2 separate regions of the Homo sapiens genome follow, and region 1 is linked to region 2. The links come from fine-mapping of genetic effects on gene expression. A gene starts in region 2. The other region holds a variant in brackets. All regions are shown on one strand. Distances are between the middles of the regions. Region 1 overlaps ARHGEF37 (Rho guanine nucleotide exchange factor 37). Region 2 holds the start of ARHGEF37 (Rho guanine nucleotide exchange factor 37).

What was found.
Region 1: its variant is fine-mapped to the expression of ARHGEF37 in whole blood (INTERVAL, PIP 0.97).

The regions. Positions count from the first base shown.
Region 1 is chr5:149,606,604-149,611,983 of GRCh38, reverse strand. ARHGEF37 (Rho guanine nucleotide exchange factor 37) reads right to left here. Exons shown (of 13, transcript NM_001001669.3): 4 at 2,289-2,436. It also overlaps the pseudogene RNU6-588P. Among named protein-coding and RNA genes, the nearest start is that of ARHGEF37, 28 kb to the right of the region's middle. RefSeq lists an enhancer at 364-658. The variant C/T (reference allele first, on the strand shown) is at 2,288.
Region 2 is chr5:149,579,474-149,584,853 of GRCh38, reverse strand. ARHGEF37 (Rho guanine nucleotide exchange factor 37) reads right to left here and starts at 3,356. Exons shown (of 13, transcript NM_001001669.3): 1 at 3,230-3,356. RefSeq lists enhancers at 1,179-1,348, 3,566-3,695 and a silencer at 3,306-3,485.

The DNA.
Region 1 (5,380 bases), 27 kb before region 2:
GCACACTAAACTATATAGCATTTTATTGGAAATTATTTTCCTTTTATTTCTCCTTTCTTAGTGAAGCCATTATACTGATTTTTTTCAGTTACATATATAGGTAGAAGAGATATATTTATTTATACATATATTTCAGGATATGTCTTAGGATAGTAAATGTATGTAATATTTGTTATAACAAGGGAGCATGGCACTGATAAAATTGAGAACTACAGTGTGGTCTCAGAGAAAATAGAATCCCTGCCTAGCCGAGATAACTATAATACGTGAGATTCATTGAGTGTCACTCGTGTGCAATGAATCAATGCCCCATGCGGGGCTGTTATTCCTCCCACCTTACACATAAGGAAACTAGATCCTGAGACATAAGATGGCTCTCTCATGGCCAGGGGCCAAGCCACATCCACCACCATGGAGCTCGGCTACAGAGCCCATGAGCAAAGCCCAGCTGGCCTGGCTAGGAAAGACCAAAGTGCAGAGGATGTAATAAACAGCAGCCTCTGAGCAAACTAGGGCTCCCACACACAGTGTTTATTAAATGTCTGAGCTAGATGCCAGCACTGAACTCTTGAGAGATGTTACATCTAAGTTTCTGGCGTCTCTTAAAAAAGCAGAGGCTCTGGCCACAACAGACCCTCATTTCTACATGGCAGCTGAGGCAGATGGTTTGCAAAAACATCACTGCTATTATTCCTCCCCCAATCTCTACAAGCCTTTGTCACTATGAAGCTCCTGCTACCAAGAAATGCAGTTTATTTCCCCACCCCTTGAGTATGGGCTGGCCTTAGGACTTCATTTGAATGACAATGTGCCAGTTCCCAGCTAAGACCTCTAGATGCCAAGCCCTCCCCACAGCCCTTAGAACCATGAGACCATGATGTGAATAAGCTAGCAGGCGGGAAGAGGAGAGACCATAGGACCACAGGTGAGGCAGCTCATGTGTCCCAGATACATGAAAAAACCCAGCCAGGATCAGCAAAGCTGACCTGCAGGTGACTGCAGATATTTGAGGGTGCTAATGATTCCAGGAGAACATTTACTGAGTACACCTAAATTGCTAATATGCAGAAGTATGAGCTAAATAAATGTTTGTTTCAAGCCACTACATTTTGGGGGTGATTTGTTATCTAGCAAAAGCCACTTGATAGCAGCAATTAGCTAAGGCTGTCCTGCAGCTGCACGCTACACAGGGTCTGTTGTCTCTAGTGTGCGCAGCCTCCACTTCTCCCTTTTATCTCATCTCTGGCACCTTGCTTCCCTTTATATCTGTAAACTGTAGAAATATATTTTGTGACTCTTGCAGAAGCCTGTTTGTAAGACCCATGAAGGATGAATAAAAAGGGAAAATGAATACAGTTTTTTTGGGAGCAGAGAGGGGCTAGGACACGGGTTCTTGAAAAGGAGACTTTAGGCCTGGCATGGTGGCTCACGCCTGTTGTCCCAGCACTGTAGATATTTTTTACTGTAAAAAATACAGCCAGCCAGATATTTTTTACTGTAAAAATTTTGATGTTTTAAAGTTTTTTAATCTTATAATCACGTTACCCATTCGAAAATTTAAATTCGAATACATATTCTCTACATTTTTCTACCTGAGGCTTCTACCCATTGGTGCTAATTCTAAGCTATGAGTCCACCACGGACTGGTGATACTCTCCCTTTTCCATGTGGCAGGACTTCAGCCACCGGTAGAGAGGGAGCCTCAGGTGATACACACCTGCTTCTTATCACTATGGGAACACATGGGTCCCACCATCTCACTGCCCTTTCCTGTGCTTCTCATGAGCACTGTTCCCAAACGTTTCCGCTTCTCCAACCCTGGACATGTGGTAGGATGGCATGCCCTGCCTCCTGGCTGTTGAATGAAGCTATGATTAGTCCTGGCCAATGAATTACGAGAAGTGATTAATATTATTTCTGGCCCACAGCATTCAATTGCCAGCATTAGACTCTCCAGAGCTCTTTTTACTTAAGCCACAGTTACTGGCAATATTCCAGACAGTGGCTGCTGTGAGTTTGGGTGCCGAAGTGAGGATGACAAAGAGCAGAACCCCAAGTCAGCCTTCAGTGGAGCATAAGGAAGACATAAACCTTTGTTGTTTGAAACCACTGAGATGTGGGAGCTGTTTGTCTCTGTGGCACAGCCTGCCCTATCCTGACTAACACAGGCTCTGACAGAGCAACACTCGTGAAGCAGCACGAATGGCATGAAAAAGGGGTGAGACCATAGCTGCTCCTGAACCGGGTCAGTGGGGTAGGAGCGAGTGCTCACTGGCCGTTCTACTCA[C/T]ACCACCGCCTCAACGATGCCCTGGATGTGCCGCTGCAGCTCCGGCTCCTTCCGGTACGTGTCCACCAGTAGCAAGGCCTGGTCGTAGCTGGCACAGTAGACCTTATAGACTTGCTCCAACTCCTCTTGGAATTCCAGAAATATGTTACCTGAGAGTGAAGACGCAACAAGGGGTCGTCAAGGGCATGTCTGTGTGTCCCCTAGCTTGGAACAGGGAGGCAGTAAGTAAACCCCTCCAGCTCTCCAGTGAGATTGCTGGGTTTACCAGCATGTCACCATGGGCAAATGACCTCATCTTCCTGACTTTCTGTTTTTTTCATCTTTTCACAAGGTTGTTCTGAGGATTGAGTGACAGAATGATATACATCTTAGGCTAGGAAACTGTGAGCACTTACTAAATGGTAGCTATAGTCATACCAGGAATATTAATAATGCTCACATTTGGACAGTGCTTTATAGTACACAAAATACACTCAACCATTAGCTTGTTTTTTTGTTTTTTTGTTTCTTTTGAGATAGAGTCTTGCTCTTGTCCCCCAGGCTGGAGTGTGGTGGCGCAATCTCTACTCACTGCAACCTCTGCCTCCCAGGTTCATGCCATTCTCTGCCTCAGCCTCCTGAGTAGCTGGGATTACAGGCTCATGCTACCATGCCTGGCTAATTTTTGTATGTTTAGTGGAGATGGGGTTTCACCATGTTGGCCAGGCTGGTCTTGAATTCCTGACCTCAGGTGACCCACCCACCTCGGCCTCCCAAAGTGCTGGGATTACAGCTGTGAGCCACCACTCCTGGCCACTCATTTTATCTTTATAATTAAAGATAAAATGTGTGGCAAGCACAACAAATCCCCAATTTACAAAGACATGCTACAGCATAACACAACTGGTTACAGTGTGAGCTTGGATTCCAGGGAACTAGGGACAGATCTCCAGCAACCCTTCCCCAGTTGTGTAACCTGAGGCAAGTGTTTCACTCCTCTAGCTCTCTATTTTCTCATCTATGGAATGCAAATAGAAACAGTACTTACTGCCGGGTGTGGTGGGTCACGCCTATAATCCCAGCACTTTGCAGGCCAAGACGGGTGGATCACGAGGTCAGGAGTTCCAGACCAGCCTGGCTAACATGGTAAAACCCTGCCTTTACTAAAAATACAAAAATTAGCCGGGTGTGATGGTGTGCCCTTGTAGTCCCAGCTACTCTTGGGAGGCTGAGGGAGGAGAATTGCTTGAACCTGGGAGGCGGAGGTTGCAGTGAGCTGAGATCGCGCCACTGCACTCCAGCCTGCACAACAGAGCAAGACACCATCTCAAAAAAAAAAAAATTTGTTTGCATATTTGTTATTTTTAATCGCCATCCTCATATGTCATATTACATATGTAATATATTTATTATATATGTCATATTACATATGTAATATATTTATTATATATGTCAGGCCTCTGAGCACAAGCTAAGCCATCATATCCCCAGTGACCTGCACGTATACATCCAGATGGCCTGAAGCAACTGAAGATCCACAGAAGTGAAAATAGCTTAACTGATGACATTCCACCATTGTGATTTGTTTCTGCCCCACCCTAACTGATCAATGTTTTTTATAATCTCCCCCATCCTTAAGAGGTTTCTTTAGGCCGGGCCCGGTGGCTCATGCCTGTAATCCCAGCACTGTGGGAGGCCCAGATGGGTGGATCACAAGATCAGGAGATTGAGACCATCCTGGCTAACACAATGAAATCCCGTCTCTACTAAAAATACAAAAAAAATTTGCCAGGCATGGTGGCGGGCACCTGTAGTCCCAGCTACTCGGGAGGCTGAGGCAGGAGAATGGCGTGAACCCAGGAGGCGGAGCTTGCAGTAAGCTGAGATCGTGCCACTGCACTCACTCCAGCCTGGGTGACAGAGCAAGACTCCATCTCAAAAAAAAAAAAAAAAAAAAAAAAAGAAGTTTCTTTATAATTCTCCCCACCGTTGAGAATGTACTTTGTGAGATCCACCCCCTGCCCCCAAAACATTGCTCTTAACTCCACCGCCTATCCCAAAACCTGTAAGAACCAATGATAATCCCACCACCCTTTGCTGACTCCTTTTTCGGACTCAGCCCGCCTGCACCCAGGTGAAATAAAGAGCCTTGTTGCTCACACAAATCCTGTTTGGTGGTCTCTTCACATGGATGCGTGAGACAATACACATATGATAAGTGCCATGAATTAAAACGGAGCCAAATAAAGAGTTAGAAAATGGTGGGGGATGTACTTGGGGAAGGCCTTTCGCAAGATGTGAATGTCTACCAGAGAGGCAGAGGTAACTAGTCCTGGGAACAAGCAAGGGAAGAGCAGCACCAAGTATTAGGGAAGGACACCTGCAGAGGCCCTGAGGCAGGACAGTGCTGGCCACAAGGGCAACAGCAAGAAGGCAAGTGTGGCTGGAGTAGGTGAACAAGGGCATAAAGTAGAGGAAATAAATCTCCAGGTGGATGGTGTCAAAAAATAAAACAGGTTGGGTGCTATGGCTCATGCCTGAAATCCCAGCATTCTGGGAGGCCAAGGCGGGTGGATCACTTGAGGCCAGGAGTTTGAGACCAGCCTGGCCAACATAGCGAAACCCCGTCTCTACTAAAAAAATACAAAAATTAGCCAGGAGTGGTGGCAGGTGCCTCAGGAGGCTGAGGCAGGAGAACTGCTTGAACCCTGGAGGCAGAGGTAGCAGTGAGCTGAGATTGCACCACTGCACTCCAGCCTGGGCGACAGAGCAAGACTGTCTCAAAAAATCAATTAATTAAAAAATAAAAATAAAGTAGAGGAAATAAGCAGGAAACAGAAGCCAGATCATGTAGGGTCTTAAAGTAAGTGGAGTGCAGTAAGGGATTCAGGTTTTATTCTGATGGTTGCAGGAAGCAACTGGAGGCCTTTGAGCAACGGTGACATGATCTGATTTCTGCTTAAAAGGATCACACTGGTGCTCAATTTTAGCATCATATACGCTAAAGTTGGAACAATATAGAGATTAGCATGGCGCCTCTGCAAAAATGACATGCAAATTTGCGAAGCGTTCCATACTTTCAAATCAGAAACTAATGAGATTAGTTACCTACAG
Region 2 (5,380 bases):
GCTCAGGAGTTCAAGACCAGCCTGGCCAACATGGTGAAACCCTGTCTCTACTAAAAATACAAAAATTAGCCAGAAGTGGTGGCACATGCCTGTAATCCCAGCTACAATCCCAGCTACTCAGGAGGCTGAGGCAGGAGAATCACTTGAACCCAGGAGGTGGAGGTTATTGTAAGCAGAGATCATGCCATTGCACTCCAGCCTGGGCGACAGAGCGAGACTCCATCTCAAGAGAAAAAAAAAAGAAAAAGAAAAGAAACATATAAAGAACAGTTTATAGTCAAAATTAGAAAAAACATCCCAATATTTTAGAAACTACTGTGAAACAAAATAGAGCCACAGAGCCAAAAAGGGAAGGAATTTTCCAAGTCACTGTGCTTACAGAAAAGGACTTCTCTGTGTTGATAAATAAATGATTGGAAGTGAGGCGGAAAGACAGCAACAGACATCCCCTCTCCCATACGCAGACAGACATACACATTCTCTCTCTCTTTCCTGGAGGAAAAACTCCCCTTTATAAATACATGGAAAGGACAGGTGGTATGTGTCTTAACCCAAATCAAACAGCAGCTGTTTGTCCTTAGCCATATTTCCCCAGTTCTATTTGGAAGGCCTAAAAAGGTCTTCCAAAAGAGGAAGGAGACAACACAGTTTTTTTTTAAAGCAGTTATTTTTATAGATAAGTGAGTCTGCCCAGGCTCTGTCATCACAAGTTTGGATCCATAGATTTAAAGTTCTTGAGCCTTCCAGTATTAGGGAATTAAGAAAATAATAACAATTATTAGAATTATAAAATTCTCTGGGCACAGTGGCTCATGCCTGTAATCCCAGCACTTTGGGAGGCTGAGGTGGGAGGATCACTGGCATCCAGGAGTTCATGACCAGCGTGGGCAATATAGCAAGACCCCGTGTCTACAAAAAGTAAAAAATTAGCCAGGTGTGGTGGCATATGCCTGTAGTCCCAGCTACTCAGAAGGCTGAGGCAGGAGGATTGCTTGAACCTGGGCGGTTGAGGCTGCAGTGAGTTGTGACTGCATCACTGCACTCAGCCTGGGTGACAGAGGAGACCCTGTCTCTAAATAAACAAACAAATAAACAAATTCTTCAGCCTATTAATAAACAAGCAATAGGCTTTGGACAGTCAAGCTCTACAAATGCCATTTTGCTTCTGTTACAGCACATGAAAACACATTCCCTACCTCATTAGTTAAATAAAAAGCCATTTATTTGATCTAGGGCAGAATCAGCCAAGGCACTGTTTACCACAGTAATCTGCTGATCCAAGAGGGATGTGAGCCAACTGCCAGCAACTCCTATTCCCTGGCAGAAATTCAGCTGAGGCTCTATTGCTGAATAAGGGTGGGTGCTGCTCAGGTCCCAGTTTATGTCCTCTTTCCTCTCATTTAAAAACAAACTCTATAGGCCAGGCACAGTGGCTCACGCCTGTAATCCCAGCACTTTGGGAGGCCGAGGTAGGCAATTGCCTGAGCTCAGGAGTTTGCAATCAGCCTGGGCAACACGGTGAAACCCCATCTCTACTAAAATACAAAAAATTAACCGGGCATAGTGGCGTGTGCCTGTAGTCCCAGCTACTTGGGAGGCTGAGGCAGGAGAATTGCTTGAACCCGGGAGGCGGAGGTTGCAGTGAACCAAGATTGTGCCATTGCACTCCAGCCTGGGAGACAGCGAGACTTCGTCTAAAACAAACAAACAAAGAAAAAACAACAACAAAAAAACGGGGTGTTGACCCCATTTGAAAGAGGCAAGTGAAGCCCAGTAAACACTCCTTGTTACAGTATCTGGTAGTTTCTACTTTCAGCTTTTGACTTGGAGTCAAATATTGAGGGTAGTACCTTGCTGCACCCTTATTTAGGATACCATCACGAAGGTATGTGGTGTGGTCTGTAAGTCATAATAGGGCTGACTTTATTTTTTCATGTTTATAATTTTTTAAATTGTATTTTATTTCAGATACAGCCCAATTTCTTCCAGGTCATCACCCTTTCCTAATTCCCACAGCTTTGATGATTTTGTGTGTCATCACTTTTTTTTTTAATTAATTAAATTAAATTTTAAACTGTGTACATAATAGATGTACATAGTTTCAGGGTACCTGTGATACTTTAATATATTTATAAAGATCAAATCAGTGTACTTGGGATATCCATCACTTTAAATATTTGTCTTTATGCTAGAACCATTCAAATTATTCTCTTCTAGCTATTTTGAAATATACAATAGATTATTGTAAACTATAGTCACCCTATAATCGTCAGCACTTTTATTGAGCATATATTATGTCAAGCACTAGCCTTTATGTTCATTCTTAAGTCTGACAATAACCTGGAGGATGAAGCAGACACTCTCATCCCCCGTCTACACATAAAACTAGGCCTTGAAAAGGTTAAACTATGCTTCCTGGATCACACAGCTGGCTGTCTGGACGCACAGCAGGTACTCCTCCACCAGCTGCCTCCCTTCAAAGGAGCAAAGAAAGTGCTCTGAAACCACCCTGCCTGAGTAGCAGCCTGCAGGCATTCCTTACAGCAGGAATTCATGTCAAATCTCAAACTGTGCACAAGGCTTTGTGTGAACCCTTCTGCTGGGAGTGGACACAGATCTCTAAGGGGTCAGGGACCCCCAGAAGGTTAAGAACCAGTGCCTGGGCAGGCTGTCTGCTTCCCCACTGTAAGTTTCTGGCGTTCAGAAGCCGGACGTTCTGACTTCTAGTCCCAGCTTTGGCACGACTTTTCTGAGGGACCTTAGCCAAGTCACCTCACCTATGGATCACGGATTTCTGTTCTCTTTTTTCCTGGCCTTGACTGTCTATTCATAATTATATTTTGCTTGGCAAGGATTCTTTACCATTGTTTGTATTTTTCCGTTGTTATAATGTATGCATTCTTTCTAAAAGCTGTCTGAAATCCTGCACGGAAGAAGGCAGAGAGAAACAGGAACAAAGAATAATAATGTTTTTCCAGGCCGGCTAACCTCCCTGGGCCTCAGTTTCCCACCTGTAAAACGACTAGGGTAGGCCATATGGACCAGGTGGCTTACATTCTCATAAGGCTCAAGACACAAAGCTAGCTACCAAGCAAGTTGGGACCCGGGAGGTCGTCGCATCCTGCCTTTCTGTCCCACCTCCCTTTTCTGATCCTCCCAGCAGCTGTTTCCTGCACCCCTCTCCAGCCCCATCCTGCTTGACCAGGCCCCAAACGCCCAGCGGACTCACCCGCGCGCGCAAGGTGCCTGCCGGCGCTCACGCACGGAGGTCGGCCGCCCGGGCAACAGCGCAGCCGGGGCAGGAGGGGCGCGTCGCCCAGCTCCCGGCACCCGCGCCGCTCCGGGTGGCTGTGCCCACCGAGGGCGCTGGCGGGCGCGGCTATGCCCACGCAGCTGCCTGCGTGCGTGCGCCGCGAGGGGGTGGCTGGTCTCCAGCCTTTGTTAATTGTCTTTCTGGAGCCAGGTTGTTTTCTGTTCGCTGCTCCCGGAGTCAGCCCCGGCCGGCTCGGAACCGTGCCCTGGCTGGCAGCCAACCCGAAGGATTGCAGGCGGAGTTTAGCGACGTGCCGGCACCCACCCTCCCGCGGCCTCTCATTAAGCCACCTTCTCCGCGGGCTCGTCATCCAGAAAACAGGAGCCGGCATTTAGGCCACCCGGTGGGAATGCTGACCCCGGTATTACTGGATACCTTTGCTCCTGCCCGAATCACCAAACTGTAGGGCTGGGCCTCAATTTAATTCTTAGTGTTGGCTGCCGAGGAGCCCTTGGTTCTTGCCCCAGCTCTCCTGGGAGCCCTGCACAACCTTAGCCAAGTCGGCCAGTCGCTTCCATGACATGACGGTGTTGGTCCATTCTTTCACTCTACTGGGAGCAAGACACTGTTCTGGGCACAGAGAACACAACAGTTAACACGATAGACAAGGTCCTGGCCTTATTGGGCTCCTGTGCAAGACACTAAACCCACCATTGAAAGTGATAGTTGCTATGAAACGCATGTAAAGTTTCATATCGGGGCAACCAAACCTTGTTTGTAGCGTCAGGAATGGACTAGATTAGCTTTTCTCATTCTGCCACTTCTTTTATTCTTATTTTCATTTTTAGGGCTTAATTTAGGGCTTATTATTTATTATTACTGCTGGTAGTAGTCATATTGCTTACTAAGGGCCAGGCGCTATACTAAATGTTTTACTTGTACTGTCTCAATTATCTCATTCACAATTTCTCTAAGAGATAGGTATCATTATTATTATCCTCATTTTCAAGAGAGAGAAACTTAAGCTACAGAGGTGAAAATAACTTGCCCATGACACACAACTACTAAGTGACAGTGCCAGTATTCGAATTCAGACTATCTGAGGGTTCAGGCTGCTTAACCACCACTCTACACTCAGAAAAACATGAAAACCAGAAAAGTGTCTCCTCTTGAATGTGACAGATGAGGGCAACTGAAGGGGAGAGGGGTGGTATAGCTTGCAGAAGAGAAAAACCAAGGGTGCCGGGCGCGGTGGCTCACGGCTGTAATCCCAGGACTTTGGGAAGCTGAGGGGGGGGCAGATCACGAGGTCAAGAGATCGAGACCATCCTGGCCAACATAGTGAAATCCCATCTCTACCAAAAATAGAAAAATTAGCTGGGCGTGGTGGTGCACACCTGTAATCCCAGCTGCTTGGGAGGCTGAGGCAGGAGAATCACTTGAATCCTGGAGGCGGAGGTTGCAGTGAGCTGAGATCACGCCACTGAACTCCAGCCTGGTGACAGAGCGAGACTCCGTCTCGAAAAAGAAAAGAAAGAAAAAAGAAAAGCAAGGGAAGCTGAGGACTTTTCAAAAAAGTAGCCCTATGGATTAGACCTAACCTGTATGATCTTAGAGGCCACCAGGATGCAGAAAGCTGTAAGGAGATGCATTGCAATTTAAAATGTAAGGAAGAACTTTTCTAACAATTTGAGTATTTCAAAAATAACATCAGTTGGCGGGGCACGGTGGTTCACGCCTGTAATCCCTTTGGCACTTTGGGAGGCCAAGGAGGGTAGATCACTTGAGGTCAGGAGTTCGAGGCCAGCCTGGCCAACATGTTGAAACCCCGTCTCTACTAAAAATACAAAAATTAGCTGGGCATGGTGGTGGGCACCTGTAATCCCAGCTACTCAGGAGACTGAGACAGAAGAATTGCTTGAGCACTGGAGGCAGAGGTTGCAGTGAGCCAAGATTACACCACTGCACTCCAGCCTGGGCGACAGAGTGAGACTCTGTCCCAAAAATAATAATAATAATAATAATAACATCAGTTGCCTGGAGAGCATATCCTGTCACTAAAAGTAAACATTCAAGCAGAGAAGCTTATTAGGGATGCTTCAAAGAAAAGTCTGGTACAAGTTAAAA